Homo sapiens: one gene and its partners. The protein of the gene in region 3 purifies or fractionates together with the protein of the main gene of each other region. This does not show direct contact. Each region holds a gene or a part of one and is shown on either strand. Other genes may lie near its edges.

The links.
Region 1: the proteins of RFTN1 (region 3) and UNC119B purify together in Homo sapiens (co-immunoprecipitation; one large-scale study listed by IntAct). This does not show direct contact.
Region 2: the proteins of RFTN1 (region 3) and SERPINA1 purify together in Homo sapiens (co-immunoprecipitation; one large-scale study listed by IntAct). This does not show direct contact.
Region 4: the proteins of RFTN1 (region 3) and SERPINA3 purify together in Homo sapiens (co-immunoprecipitation; one large-scale study listed by IntAct). This does not show direct contact.

What each region holds. Positions count from the first base shown.
Region 1 is NC_000012.12:120,716,958-120,720,457, forward strand, and holds part of UNC119B (protein unc-119 homolog B), read left to right. Parts: coding exon 1-85; intron 86-2,962; coding exon 2,963-3,075; 3' UTR 3,076-3,500. UniProt on the Homo sapiens protein: Myristoyl-binding protein that acts as a cargo adapter: specifically binds the myristoyl moiety of a subset of N-terminally myristoylated proteins and is required for their localization.
Region 2 is NC_000014.9:94,378,603-94,382,102, reverse strand, and holds part of SERPINA1 (alpha-1-antitrypsin precursor), read left to right. Parts: intron 1-961; coding exon 962-1,232; intron 1,233-2,491; coding exon 2,492-2,639; intron 2,640-3,462; coding exon 3,463-3,500.
Region 3 is NC_000003.12:16,507,200-16,510,699, forward strand, and holds part of RFTN1 (raftlin), read right to left. Parts: intron 1-3,500. UniProt on the Homo sapiens protein: Involved in protein trafficking via association with clathrin and AP2 complex.
Region 4 is NC_000014.9:94,615,391-94,618,890, forward strand, and holds part of SERPINA3 (alpha-1-antichymotrypsin precursor), read left to right. Parts: intron 1-3,500. UniProt on the Homo sapiens protein: Although its physiological function is unclear, it can inhibit neutrophil cathepsin G and mast cell chymase, both of which can convert angiotensin-1 to the active angiotensin-2.

The DNA.
Region 1 (3,500 bases), on a different chromosome or scaffold from region 3:
GACTTTGATTTTGGCTTCTGCATCCCCAGCAGTAGGAACACTTGTGAACATATCTATGAGTTTCCCCAGCTTTCGGAGGATGTCAGTATGTATCCCCTGACCCTTACAGCACTCTAGATTCTGAGGGCTACAAGGAACAAACCTTGAAACCCATCTGGTCCAGCGCCCTGGCATTGTCTCGTGGCAGTGCTGACATGATGCGTATCTAGTCATTTGACCTCAGGCTTCTCATTTCCTATTGCTCCTGGCTCCTGTTCTAAACTCTGACTCGGCCCGTATGGGAGCAATGAAGGGTTTGTTTGTTTTTGTTTTTGTTTTTTTCCCCTGAGACAGAGTCTTGCTCTGTCTGTTGCCCAGGCTGGAGTGCAGCAGCGCGATCTCGGCTCACTGTAACCTCTGCCTCCCAGGTTCAAGCGATTCTCCTGCCTCAGCCTCCTGAGTAGCTGGGATTACACCACACTTGGCTAGTTTTTGTATTTTCAGTAGAGACGGGATTTCACCATGTTGGTCAGGCTGGTCTCGAACACTTGACCTCATGATCCACTCTCCTCGGCCTCCCACAATGCTGGGATTACAGGTGTGAGCCACTGCCCCCGGCCCTTTTGTTTTTTTCTTTTTTTTTTGAGACGGAGTCTTGCCCTATTGCCCAGGCTGGAGTGCAGTGGCGCAGTCTTGGCTCAGTGCATCCTCCGTCTCCTGGGTTCAAGTGATTCTCCTGCCTCAGCCTCTCGAGTAGCTGGGATTATAGGCACCTGCCACCATGCCCGGCTAATTTTTTGTATTTTTTGTAGAGACAGAGTTTCACCATGTTGGTCAGGCTGGTCTCGAACTCCTGACCCTGTGATCCACCTGCCTCATCCTCCCAAAGTACTGGGGATTACAGGCGTGAGCCACTGTGCTCAGTCTGAAGGTTTTTTTTTTTTTTCTTTTTGAGACGGAGTCTTGATCTTGTCACCCAGGCTGGAGTGCAGTGGCGCAATCTCGGCTCACTGCAAGCTCTGCCTCCTGGGTTCATGCCATTCTGCCTCAGCCTCCTGAGTAGCTGAGACTACAGGTGCCCACCACCATGCCCGGCTAATTTTTTGTATTTTTAGTAGAGACGGGGTTTCACCGTGTTAGCCAGGATAGTCCCAATCTCCTGACCTCGTGATCCGCCTGCTTCGGCCTCCCAAAGTGCTGGAATTACAGGCTTGAGCCACTGCGCCCGGCCGGTCTGAAGGTTTTAATAATACAGGCCATCCTTTTAGATGCCTCCTGTGGGAAGACAGTGCCTAAGGGAGATAAAAGGAGGCCTGTGACCATCCCTGGGACGCTGATCAGATAAAGCACCTCTCCTGTGCACTGTTAGTCATGGTTTTCCATTGTGTTTTAGTCATTGGCCCTTCACTTTTTTCTTAATCAGAGCTAGATGTGAAACTGCAGGCTAAATAGAATCAAGGCCAGAGGACTTCTTTTCCATTCCCTGCAGGATAGAGAGTTGATTGGATAAAGTGTTGAGATAGATCCAGCAGGAAGGAATGGGGCTGTTGTAGATTTTGGGGCAGGAGTGAGAAGGTGGAAATACTGTTTGAGGAAGAGTGGCCTAGACCTGGGGAGGGCACCAGAGGGAGAAGGCTGCTGCCGTGTAGCCTCGGCAAGGGAAGATGGGGACCAAACGAGAGAGAAAGAACAGCCCTTGTCAGTTTCTGCAACTTTGGCCTAGCCACCTCAGGTTCGCATCCTTTGTGAATAGTTAGGGAAAATTCAAGTCATTTATGAGGGTGTGAATAGAATCCTGTGACTAGTGATGCCTGTAGTTGCCTTGCTGGCATCACTGATTGGTCCTCTCAGAATCCCAGGTCCTTAAGAATTGTCATATTCTGAAAACCAGATAACCTTTAATCGTGTGGCAGTACAGTTCCCAGGTAAAATGAGGATTGCTGAGATGTGGGGCAGGGTGTTGACGACAGCATCTGGTTCTGACTTGAACCCCTCTTCCCAAGCTGGCTAGAATATGTAGATACTTGCAAGAAAAGATGATGTATAGTGTTATAAGTTTTACCCATGAAGCCAAATCAGCCTGGAGGGCAATATTATGCATATAAACCGAGTAGTTTTGGCATTGGTGGGTTCAAAGAACTTTAAAAAATCAGTTTCACTTTTTGAGAACTGTGGTGAGCAACAGCATTTCCTCCAGGGGACTCCAAATGGCATGTAATCATTAACTCAAAACTGATCAGAGGTAGTATTATCTTTATTCTCCAGTATGGTTAAAGACTCAAAATGGCATGTAATCATTAACTCAAAACTGATCAGAGGTAGTGACTGTTAATTATCTTTACTCTCCAGTATGGTTAAAGAGGTCTGGGCAATTGCCTGAACAAACAAGACTTTACTTTAGATCCCAAGACAGGCAGACCTATTGCTGAATCATTTGCGAGTTAATACCCAGAAGGTCTCCGGAGAAGGCTCCCTGCCCTGTGTTCCTTGCACTCATTCCAATCTAGGTTTCCTTGGGTTGTCAGGGTTGTGTGTGGAGGTGGGCACAGTGAGGCTCAGATTTCTGAATTTGGAGTGGAATGTCTAGAGGTGGGCCACTGACCAGAGGCCAGGGCTGGCTTTGGTCAGCTGAGAGCACTGAGTAAATAGGTTGGTGGGGTCCATGTTGGGAAGAGGGGTGAGCACATTTCCCTGGTATCTTGGCTGAAGAATCCAGGCTGGAGATGACAGAGGAGGCCATGGTGGAGAGTTGATTGCATCCTTATGTTGAAATGGAGATCATGTTCAGCTGGGGGGCCTCTGTGGTCTCCCCAGCTGTCAAGGGCTGCCTCCCTCTGTTCTGACCTCATCGTTATTCTGGCAGAGTATACTCTGAAGCGCTGGCTTATTTTGGAGGGGATGCAAAGTTTTCTCCCACCTACCCTGTGGGGCAGACTCAAACATAATTCTTTGCTTTTTTCTTCCCCCTTTGCCTGACTTGCAGTTCGTCTAATGATTGAAAATCCTTACGAGACCCGCTCTGACAGCTTCTACTTTGTTGACAACAAGCTGATAATGCACAACAAGGCTGATTATGCCTATAATGGAGGCCAGTAAGTGCTGCAAGAGTAGATAGGGGAGGTGCTTTGCCGCGGCCACAAGATCCTGGCACACGGAGATGATCGAAGCTGCAGTTTGTCAACACACATCTGGAACCTGGCCCCAGGAAGCCAAGGCTGGGGTGGCAGTTTCCTGCGCGCCAAAGGAGCTGCCAAACAGTGCTGTGTTTTCTTCCCCAGTATTTTTTCTTCCCTTTTTTTCCTGCCCCGTAGGTTGCAGAGGTACTATAGTAAAGTAAAAGGTTAGGATAAGGGTCCTGGAATCCAGATAAAAAAGTTTATTTTCCGTAGTTCTGGCTGCCTGTTGGTTGTCTTGACGACCAGGCATAGCTGTGCCTGGTGAGAAGGCTCTGGCCAGGCCCACCAGCAGGTCAGCAGCTCTTAAGGTTCCTGGGTGCTGTGGGAAGCTGAAAGGTAGGCCTC
Region 2 (3,500 bases), on a different chromosome or scaffold from region 3:
ATACCATTCTTGCTGTCAGGTTTTTTTAGGATTAAACAAATGACAAAGACTGTGGGGATGGTGTGTGGCATACAGCAGGTGATGGACTCTTCTGTATCTCAGGCTGCCTTCCTGCCCCTGAGGGGTTAAAATGCCAGGGTCCTGGGGGCCCCAGGGCATTCTAAGCCAGCTCCCACTGTCCCAGGAAAACAGCATAGGGGAGGGGAGGTGGGAGGCAAGGCCAGGGGCTGCTTCCTCCACTCTGAGGCTCCCTTGCTCTTGAGGCAAAGGAGGGCAGTGGAGAGCAGCCAGGCTGCAGTCAGCACAGCTAAAGTCCTGGCTCTGCTGTGGCCTTAGTGGGGGCCCAGGTCCCTCTCCAGCCCCAGTCTCCTCCTTCTGTCCAATGAGAAAGCTGGGATCAGGGGTCCCTGAGGCCCCTGTCCACTCTGCATGCCTCGATGGTGAAGCTCTGTTGGTATGGCAGAGGGGAGGCTGCTCAGGCATCTGCATTTCCCCTGCCAATCTAGAGGATGAGGAAAGCTCTCAGGAATAGTAAGCAGAATGTTTGCCCTGGATGAATAACTGAGCTGCCAATTAACAAGGGGCAGGGAGCCTTAGACAGAAGGTACCAAATATGCCTGATGCTCCAACATTTTATTTGTAATATCCAAGACACCCTCAAATAAACATATGATTCCAATAAAAATGCACAGCCACGATGGCATCTCTTAGCCTGACATCGCCACGATGTAGAAATTCTGCATCTTCCTCTAGTTTTGAATTATCCCCACACAATCTTTTTCGGCAGCTTGGATGGTCAGTTTCAGCACCTTTTACAGATGATGAAGCTGAGCCTCGAGGGATGTGTGTCGTCAAGGGGGCTCAGGGCTTCTCAGGGAGGGGACTCATGGTTTCTTTATTCTGCTACACTCTTCCAAACCTTCACTCACCCCTGGTGATGCCCACCTTCCCCTCTCTCCAGGCAAATGGGAGAGACCCTTTGAAGTCAAGGACACCGAGGAAGAGGACTTCCACGTGGACCAGGTGACCACCGTGAAGGTGCCTATGATGAAGCGTTTAGGCATGTTTAACATCCAGCACTGTAAGAAGCTGTCCAGCTGGGTGCTGCTGATGAAATACCTGGGCAATGCCACCGCCATCTTCTTCCTGCCTGATGAGGGGAAACTACAGCACCTGGAAAATGAACTCACCCACGATATCATCACCAAGTTCCTGGAAAATGAAGACAGAAGGTGATTCCCCAACCTGAGGGTGACCAAGAAGCTGCCCACACCTCTTAGCCATGTTGGGACTGAGGCCCATCAGGACTGGCCAGAGGGCTGAGGAGGGTGAACCCCACATCCCTGGGTCACTGCTACTCTGTATAAACTTGGCTTCCAGAATGAGGCCACCACTGAGTTCAGGCAGCGCCATCCATGCTCCATGAGGAGGACAGTACCCAGGGGTGAGGAGGTAAAGGTCTCGTCCCTGGGGACTTCCCACTCCAGTGTGGACACTGTCCCTTCCCAATATCCAGTGCCCAGGGCAGGGACAGCAGCACCACCACACGTTCTGGCAGAACCAAAAAGGAACAGATGGGCTTCCTGGCAAAGGCAGCAGTGGAGTGTGGAGTTCAAGGGTAGAATGTCCCTGGGGGGACGGGGGAAGAGCCTGTGTGGCAAGGCCCAGAAAAGCAAGGTTCGGAATTGGAACAGCCAGGCCATGTTCGCAGAAGGCTTGCGTTTCTCTGTCACTTTATCGGTGCTGTTAGATTGGGTGTCCTGTAGTAAGTGATACTTAAACATGAGCCACACATTAGTGTATGTGTGTGCATTCGTGATTATGCCCATGCCCTGCTGATCTAGTTCGTTTTGTACACTGTAAAACCAAGATGAAAATACAAAAGGTGTCGGGTTCATAATAGGAATCGAGGCTGGAATTTCTCTGTTCCATGCCAGCACCTCCTGAGGTCTCTGCTCCAGGGGTTGAGAAAGAACAAAGAGGCTGAGAGGGTAACGGATCAGAGAGCCCAGAGCCAAGCTGCCCGCTCACACCAGACCCTGCTCAGGGTGGCATTGTCTCCCCATGGAAAACCAGAGAGGAGCACTCAGCCTGGTGTGGTCACTCTTCTCTTATCCACTAAACGGTTGTCACTGGGCACTGCCACCAGCCCCGTGTTTCTCTGGGTGTAGGGCCCTGGGGATGTTACAGGCTGGGGGCCAGGTGACCCAACACTACAGGGCAAGATGAGACAGGCTTCCAGGACACCTAGAATATCAGAGGAGGTGGCATTTCAAGCTTTTGTGATTCATTCGATGTTAACATTCTTTGACTCAATGTAGAAGAGCTAAAAGTAGAACAAACCAAAGCCGAGTTCCCATCTTAGTGTGGGTGGAGGACACAGGAGTAAGTGGCAGAAATAATCAGAAAAGAAAACACTTGCACTGTGGTGGGTCCCAGAAGAACAAGAGGAATGCTGTGCCATGCCTTGAATTTCTTTTCTGCACGACAGGTCTGCCAGCTTACATTTACCCAAACTGTCCATTACTGGAACCTATGATCTGAAGAGCGTCCTGGGTCAACTGGGCATCACTAAGGTCTTCAGCAATGGGGCTGACCTCTCCGGGGTCACAGAGGAGGCACCCCTGAAGCTCTCCAAGGTGAGATCACCCTGACGACCTTGTTGCACCCTGGTATCTGTAGGGAAGAATGTGTGGGGGCTGCAGCTCTGTCCTGAGGCTGAGGAAGGGGCCGAGGGAAACAAATGAAGACCCAGGCTGAGCTCCTGAAGATGCCCGTGATTCACTGACACGGGACGTGGTCAAACAGCAAAGCCAGGCAGGGGACTGCTGTGCAGCTGGCACTTTCGGGGCCTCCCTTGAGGTTGTGTCACTGACCCTGAATTTCAACTTTGCCCAAGACCTTCTAGACATTGGGCCTTGATTTATCCATACTGACACAGAAAGGTTTGGGCTAAGTTGTTTCAAAGGAATTTCTGACTCCTTCGATCTGTGAGATTTGGTGTCTGAATTAATGAATGATTTCAGCTAAAGATGACACTTATTTTGGAAAACTAAAGGCGACCAATGAACAACTGCAGTTCCATGAATGGCTGCATTATCTTGGGGTCTGGGCACTGTGAAGGTCACTGCCAGGGTCCGTGTCCTCAAGGAGCTTCAAGCCGTGTACTAGAAAGGAGAGAGCCCTGGAGGCAGACGTGGAGTGACGATGCTCTTCCCTGTTCTGAGTTGTGGGTGCACCTGAGCAGGGGGAGAGGCGCTTGTCAGGAAGATGGACAGAGGGGAGCCAGCCCCATCAGCCAAAGCCTTGAGGAGGAGCAAGGCCTATGTGACAGGGAGGGAGAGGATGTGCAGGGCCAGGGCCGTCCAGGGGGAGTGAGCGCTTCCTGGGAGGTGTCCACGTGAGCCTTGCTCGAGGCCTGGGATCAGCCTTACAACGTGTCTCTGCTTCTCTCCCCTCCAGGCCGTGCATAAGGCTGTGCTGACCATCGACGAGAAAGG
Region 3 (3,500 bases):
TAAATATTAACCGTTTTAGTACTCTACTGGGATTACTTGTTGCTCATTATGAAGACACCTTTTGACCTACTCTGGCCTATAGTCATGATTATGCCACACTGAAAAGGGCACTTATAAGGTATCATAAGACACCAGAAAATCCCAAAAGACCTCTCTAAATTAAAGAAGTGTTTAAATAAACAACCTGATTTCTTGTGCTTTATATTTCCAAAATTTGCTAATACATGATATGATCAGGTTCCATTAACCAGAGTCTATGATTAACCAAATCTCTTACCCAACTTTCTGAGTAAAATCTATTACAACAGTTCCCCCAAATCTGAGGAACTTTAGCGCTATTCCATAAAACTTGAAGGATTCCTCAGGACAAAGGGTAAAAGGCAAAGTAGGGAGTTTCAAAACACACACACACACACACACACATACACACACACATGCACACATCCACAAACACGCACATACATACACACACAATGCACATAAACACACACATACACACACATACATACACATACACACATACACACAAACACATACACACATACATGCACACTCACATACACACAAACACACACATACACTCACATACACACAAACACACACAAACGCACATACATACATACATACACACACACACACATACACACATATATATACACACACACATGCACACATATGAAAGCTGATAGGCCCCCGTAAAGAATAAATTGTAACCCTCAAGGAGGTCTGCCTATGGAACAACACGACGGGACATTTCAGGTGTAAACGCCAGAGAAAGTTGTCAGTGAGGTGCATCTGGCTTCCTGGTTGAAGAAGTGTGGAAACCTCCAATACGGGATCTTAAAGTAGCATAAGAGTTTGTCGGCATCAAACAACTGAGCCAAGCATAGCTTATGTTGATTTCCCACTTCTGGCTGGACTTGCTGCTTGCAGACACCTGAGGAGTGGCTTCCTCTCTCCTGTGAGGCTGGTTCTGAAGTACTGTACACCCCAGCAGAGGTGACAGCCACAGTACCAGCCCTCCACTGTCCCATGTAACTGGGACATCAAAGCTGCCAGCCTTCTCCATCAATCCCTGCACCCCGGAGGCAGGTCAAATCCAGGAAAACTCTAAACGAAGCTTTCAAGTACCCCAAATGGTGTCTCCTCCATCTCAGTCCTGGCAGGGAGCCATCACTGCAGAATGTCACCTGATTTTCCAGCTCTTTGGTTCTGGCCCACTGAGAGTGATTTTTCCTCCTGAATTCAGCCCAGGTAGGGAGTAAGTCACACAATTGCATATTTAAAAGCTGAACTGAATTCTTATTTGGAGAGCAAGGAATTAGCCGGGTTCAAGCAGTGGCTATCGCTTGCCTGCTGTACCAATTTTTTATGAGAAAGTGTCTTGATAAAACATGCAATGCTAATAATGAAAGCCCCTTTGGGGCCCAGGAGAAAAGGGAGATTCAAACGTATGTCAAAAACTGAATGTGAATGGAAGGAAAGATCACACGCACGCACACACACACACACACACACACACACCCCTTTAAAAGGTAAACACAAAAGCAACATCTGGCTAAATGTATCCCTTTGTCAGTGAAAAATAGCAGAAGCCCTAGCCAAGTGTGTTACCAATTCTTAAACTGAAGGGTAAAAAAAAAACACCACAGAGCAGCACTGTCAAACAGAACTTTCAGCAATGATGAAACTACTATCTGTGCTATCCAATTCAGTAGCCACTAACCACACGTGGCTCTGGGCCACTTGAAATGCGGTGAGTGAGACGGAAGGACTGAATTTTAAATTTTCTTTTCTTTTAATTCATTACATTTAAATGTAAATAGCCACATGTAACTAGTGGCTACTGTATTGAACAGTTCAGCTGGCAACGTCTTTCTGTTCCTTCAATAAAATTGTAATCCTAATCAACCAATAATATTTTAAATTATCATCAAAATTAGTATAAGCCCCTGGCTGTGCCAAACTCAGTAAGCTTAAGACAAAATGAAAACAAACAAACAACAACAAAAAAAAACTAAAGAAAATGATTGCAGTGTATCATTTCCTGTAACGCTGTTCTGATTATCTAATTTACATTTCTATTATAATATGGCTTTGTGTATTTGGAAATCCGTGATTGTAGACAGATTTTGCCTTCAAAAAACCAGAATGTCACAGTCTCTTCCCTTAAGGTCTTAGAAAAATGAAAACGTGAACTTAGGGAAAGTTAACCTTGCAAGCTTCAATTTCCTCAGGGCTGAAGTGAAGATAATATAAGTACTCGCCTCTCATGAGGATTAAATTCAGATAATGCGTGCAAAATGTACAACAGTGCCTGGCAAAGGGTAAGCACTCAGCAAGTGGCAGCTATAATTATTTGTATTTTATTAACAATATTAAAATCAGTAATAAAGAGAACAGTGTTAATACAATGAAAGTTTACACTGAACAAAATTTTCCTAGGCCCAAACCCTTTGAATGTGTTTTCCAAGCCATGGTAAAGTGCCCTCGAGTAAAATACATCCTGGGGCCCTGACATCTTGACACCCACTGTCAACCTCCAGAGAGGCGATCACCCAGATGGGTATCACGAGTCACGAAATCACTCAGCCAATGTTTACTGTGTCCCTACCCTCTGGCAGGCACTGCGCTAGGCTTTTAAGGAGGAGGGAACAGTCCCCAAACACAGTGCAATGTCTCAAGACTGAGCTGTCTGCCATCTGACTCCTGCAAAGCTTGGTCAGCCCTGGGACACCTTGATGGGATGCAAAACATGCATCCTGGGGTCCCACTCAGACAGAAAAGTTCACTTCCCGTTTCCTAGATCAGCCAAGGCAAGCTTTGGCTGTTGGCACCACAGAGAGGGACTAAGTTATTAGGGGACCCGAGGGGCACAGGCCCATTTTCCCAGTCAGGACAATAAGAGGGGTGTTGACAGGCCATGTTTCTCACTGAGAGGCCAGATCACTTTCACAAGAGAGTCATTCTCTGAGTCTTAACAAAGCCAAATCTGACCTGCCCCTCAAAATAAACACAACCCCTTTCAGTAGCCGGCTGACCAAGCCGGTGAAATCCAAGGGGACTCTCCACCAAGTTAATATCAACCCTACCAATAGACCAGAAATCCCCCGGGAGTTTCTAGGCAGAAGCTTAGTAAAATTCTGTGGGGCTTGGGGTTATTTTTCTTTTTATAGAAAGCACTCAATCAATCTTCTTTCACAACCAAGGGTACATTCCCCTATGGAATTCCCTTCTCTGAAAATCTCTAAAAATAAAATATTCATCTGATCGTCTGCAATGATTTAAGTTTAAACCCATTTTCAGGCAGAGTCAGGGACTTCCTATGGCCCCTCCACCTATAAAAACATGTTCCCCACTGCCTCAGATTCCCTCTGGCCCCAGAAGAACACTAGTCAAACCATGCTCTTGACTTTAGGATAGGAAAGACAGGGCTGTAGTATCTGGAATCTCATACTTGTATTCTTTGCTGGTGAGACTGTAAAATGGTATAACCATGT
Region 4 (3,500 bases), on a different chromosome or scaffold from region 3:
AACCACTCCAGGGCGCGTAGGAGCTAGAGCTCCCTCCTTGCAGGGGTGCTGCTAGACTAGGCCAGGAAGTCCCTCTGTCTGGATGCACCTGGGGCTCCTGCCCTGCACATGTGGGAGGAGCACATTCCAGCCAGGGGCCTTGGTGTCTGGAGGTGGCCAGGTGGGGCTGGGGCCATCTTCACAGGGCAAGATAATCCCCAAGGAGCCTGGCCACTTCCAAGATTCTATGATTCTACTCTGCTATCATCTTTAATTATTTTAAAAAATATGTCACTGACACATAACAAATGAGGGCAGAAATGGCATTGTTCCCATCTGGGGAAGAGCCTCAAGGGTGGGCAGTATACAAAACATGACCCTTTGCCAGATTCTAACTGGTCCAGTGCCCAATCCCATTGATAGAAACTCAACCAATGCAAACCTCAGCCTGCAAGCTCCGAAGGGGCAGAGTGCAAGCCGGTAGCTTTTGCCTCCTGGAGCCCACAGTCCAGATGGGGACAAAAAAAGAGATAGGGACACAAAGAGTGATCACTGAGCCAGAGGGTGGAAAGGTGCTTAGGAGACATGAGCTGCTTGGAGGCAGAGTCCTGCTTGGAAGCTGTTGGTTGATTCCTGGGCAAGCCACTTCCCCTCCTGGGCCTGGGTTTTCATCTGTAAATGAAGGCGTGGATCCAGATCTCCCTCTAAGACTACTCCACGCCTCACGTGCCATTTGTTCTCTGAGTTTCCCATGTTCTCGCCTCCTACTACCTAGCCCTATGCTAGGACTCTCCCCTCCAGGACACAGTAGCCAGCCTAGCTTTCCCCTCCCCACCTGCCTCTAACAATGGGAAACAGGCAGGTGGTAAACAGGTGGGCAGTGGAGGTGGCCCCATGTCTCCAGCCTCCCCTGGAAGCTCCCACCCCCCTCATTGTTCAGTGCTCTGGTCCTCCTGGAGTGGAGACCTGCAGGGCCCCTCCCCTTCCTCTGTTGACCTCTCCTCACTCTCCAGGTGCCAGTTTTGCTCCCTGCCTCAGCCTGGTTTACATACAGTGTATGTGACGGGGCTTGGTCACTGCTGGGGCAGCCCTGTGGAAGGTGGAGGGGACCGAGCATGCATGAGCTTCAGGCTGAGACAGTCCCAGCTCAGAACCCTGGAGTGCTTGTTCCCTCCCTTTCTGCTCTTCCTCTTCCATTGCACCCACTGGACCCAAGAGCATGCAAGGATTGACTCACCCAGTGATGCTAGAACTATGTATTCAGCTGAAAGTAAGGGGGTGGGGGCATCCAACCAGGGGCAGAAGATGGGAATTCAAGAAAGGAAGGTTTCCCCTAGAAAACGGTTTTCGTCTTTTCTCTTAAATCCAGATAGAATAAGAAGCGAAGGCCGTTACAGCAGAGAGAAAGTTGAGTCAAGCAGAGATCAGATACTAAAGACACTAGACTAACCAGACATTCGGGCCCTCAGTTGAACAGCTGAGGATGTCAGAAGATGTTAAGGAGGCAAAATTGGAAAACTTGGTGGCTGGCAGACAGAAATGGGGGGAGATGGGAGCAGATGTGAGAAGATTTAAAGGCTTGTAGAGCTTGGGTGGTGATTTCATCCACCAAACCTATCTCTCTCCCCATTCTGGCATACAAGGCAGCAGTCAGGGTCCCCAGAGGCAGCCCATCTTTCTGGCAGGGACCCATGCTGGAGATCTGGCCAGCTGAAAGGCCCCAAAGGAGCTCGGTGCCCTGGGTAATATGGGAAGGTGCTCCATGGCACTGCCCTCACATGGAGGCCACAGAAGCCCCTGAATGGCTGCTGCAATTGGTAACGGGGACACCTGTTCAACTGAAATATCTCCTACCCTGAGATGGGTCCTTTCTCCAAGGGATCTTTACAATTACATTTGTCCCCAGTCATTCCATGTTGGGAGGCTGCAGGGACCAGAGAAGCTGAGATGGTCTTTGGGGAGGGGAAAGGAAAGATGGACAGTTATTTTGGTCCTAGAAAGCCCAAAGGTGGGGAAGTGTCAAGAAGGAAGATGAGGGCACAAGAGAATGTAGGGCCACCCAGAAGCTGGCTCTCATTGCAATTACAGAAAGAAAAACCAAAATAAAGAAAGAAAGGAAAGAAGCTCCCATTTATTGAGCAGCTACTCTCACCAGCCATTCACATGCAATACCTCGTTTAATTCTCGCAGCGGCTCTGAAAGGTGGATGGTGGTATTGCCATTTGTTAGGTAGGAGACATGCCGTCCAGAAAAGCAAATAATTAAACATTCAAAGTTGACCTGGGCCCATTTGAAAATTCCTTTTGCTCCCTCATTTTAACCCCTAAAGTAAAGCCGTTTGTGACTTTATGAGCTTTTACCAAGCATCTCCTAAAACCAAGAATGGAGGTGAAAGATTGTGGAGCCCACAACCTAGAGAAAGGATTGACAATTTTTTTTCCATAAAGGGCCTAGTAGTATGTATTTTAGGCTGTGTGGTCCACATGAGGGCAGATTCTTCTTTTTGACTTCCTCCTCTGCATCTTCTTCATCTTCTCTTTCCTCTTCATTTTTTTTACAACCTTTGAAAAATATAAGCACCATTCTTAGCTTTAGGTACACACAAAAATAAGCTATGGCTGTATTGGCTTACAGGCTATAGTTTCCTGACCCCTGTTCTAGGGGAGGAAAATAATTGTACCCAACTAAATGCGTGCGAATCATGGGCCTATGTCATGATTCCCAAAGAATGAGTTTCATGGAATTTTCAACATTTTAAATATTTTACTCCATTCTTCCCTTGCTTGCATAGTTTCTGATGAGAAGTCTGCTGTCATTTTCATCCTTATTCCTTTTTAGATAAGGTGGAGTTTTCCTCCCTCTGCCTCTACCTCTACCTCTTTCAAGATTTTCTCTTTCTCTTTACTATGGTAAATAGGCCTTTAGTGAGAGGAGTTATGTCAGCCTGGCTAGGAGTCAGGCTGCATTTCAGGTTTGTGATAGCTAGAGGTACCAGAGGCAGTTTCATGGAATTTTACCTTTGCAACACTGAGAGCCTAGGCAGCCTCAGAGTCAGAACACCCACAGTTGAATCCTCAGCCTGACAGACACTGAATCCAGGGCAAATCTTAGCTGAATATTCATGGTCTGTAGAGGTGGACATGAGCTAGATATGAGCTAAGGACCATAGCCAGCTCATGGCTTTTGTGATGTCCAACACCGCTATCCTCTAAGATGTCACAAGTGTCCCTAGGCTTTTATTCCCATGGTCTCTCCTGGCTCTGAGTTCTATCTTCCATTAAGGTTCTTCCTGTTCCTCCCCTCATTCACACTGATTGGCATCTCTTCTGTCTGCCCTCACCAACTCACATACAGAACCCAGTCTCTTTCCTCTTATTTCCACCCAAAGCCCTCCCACAAGCCACTGTTATATGTTCACATCCCTGTAATACCAGTGAGTAATAATTGCTAATGAGACATTTTTCCTTTTATGGAACAAAGGCTGTCCCATTTCTCCTCAGGCACCAGCCTCCCACATGTTG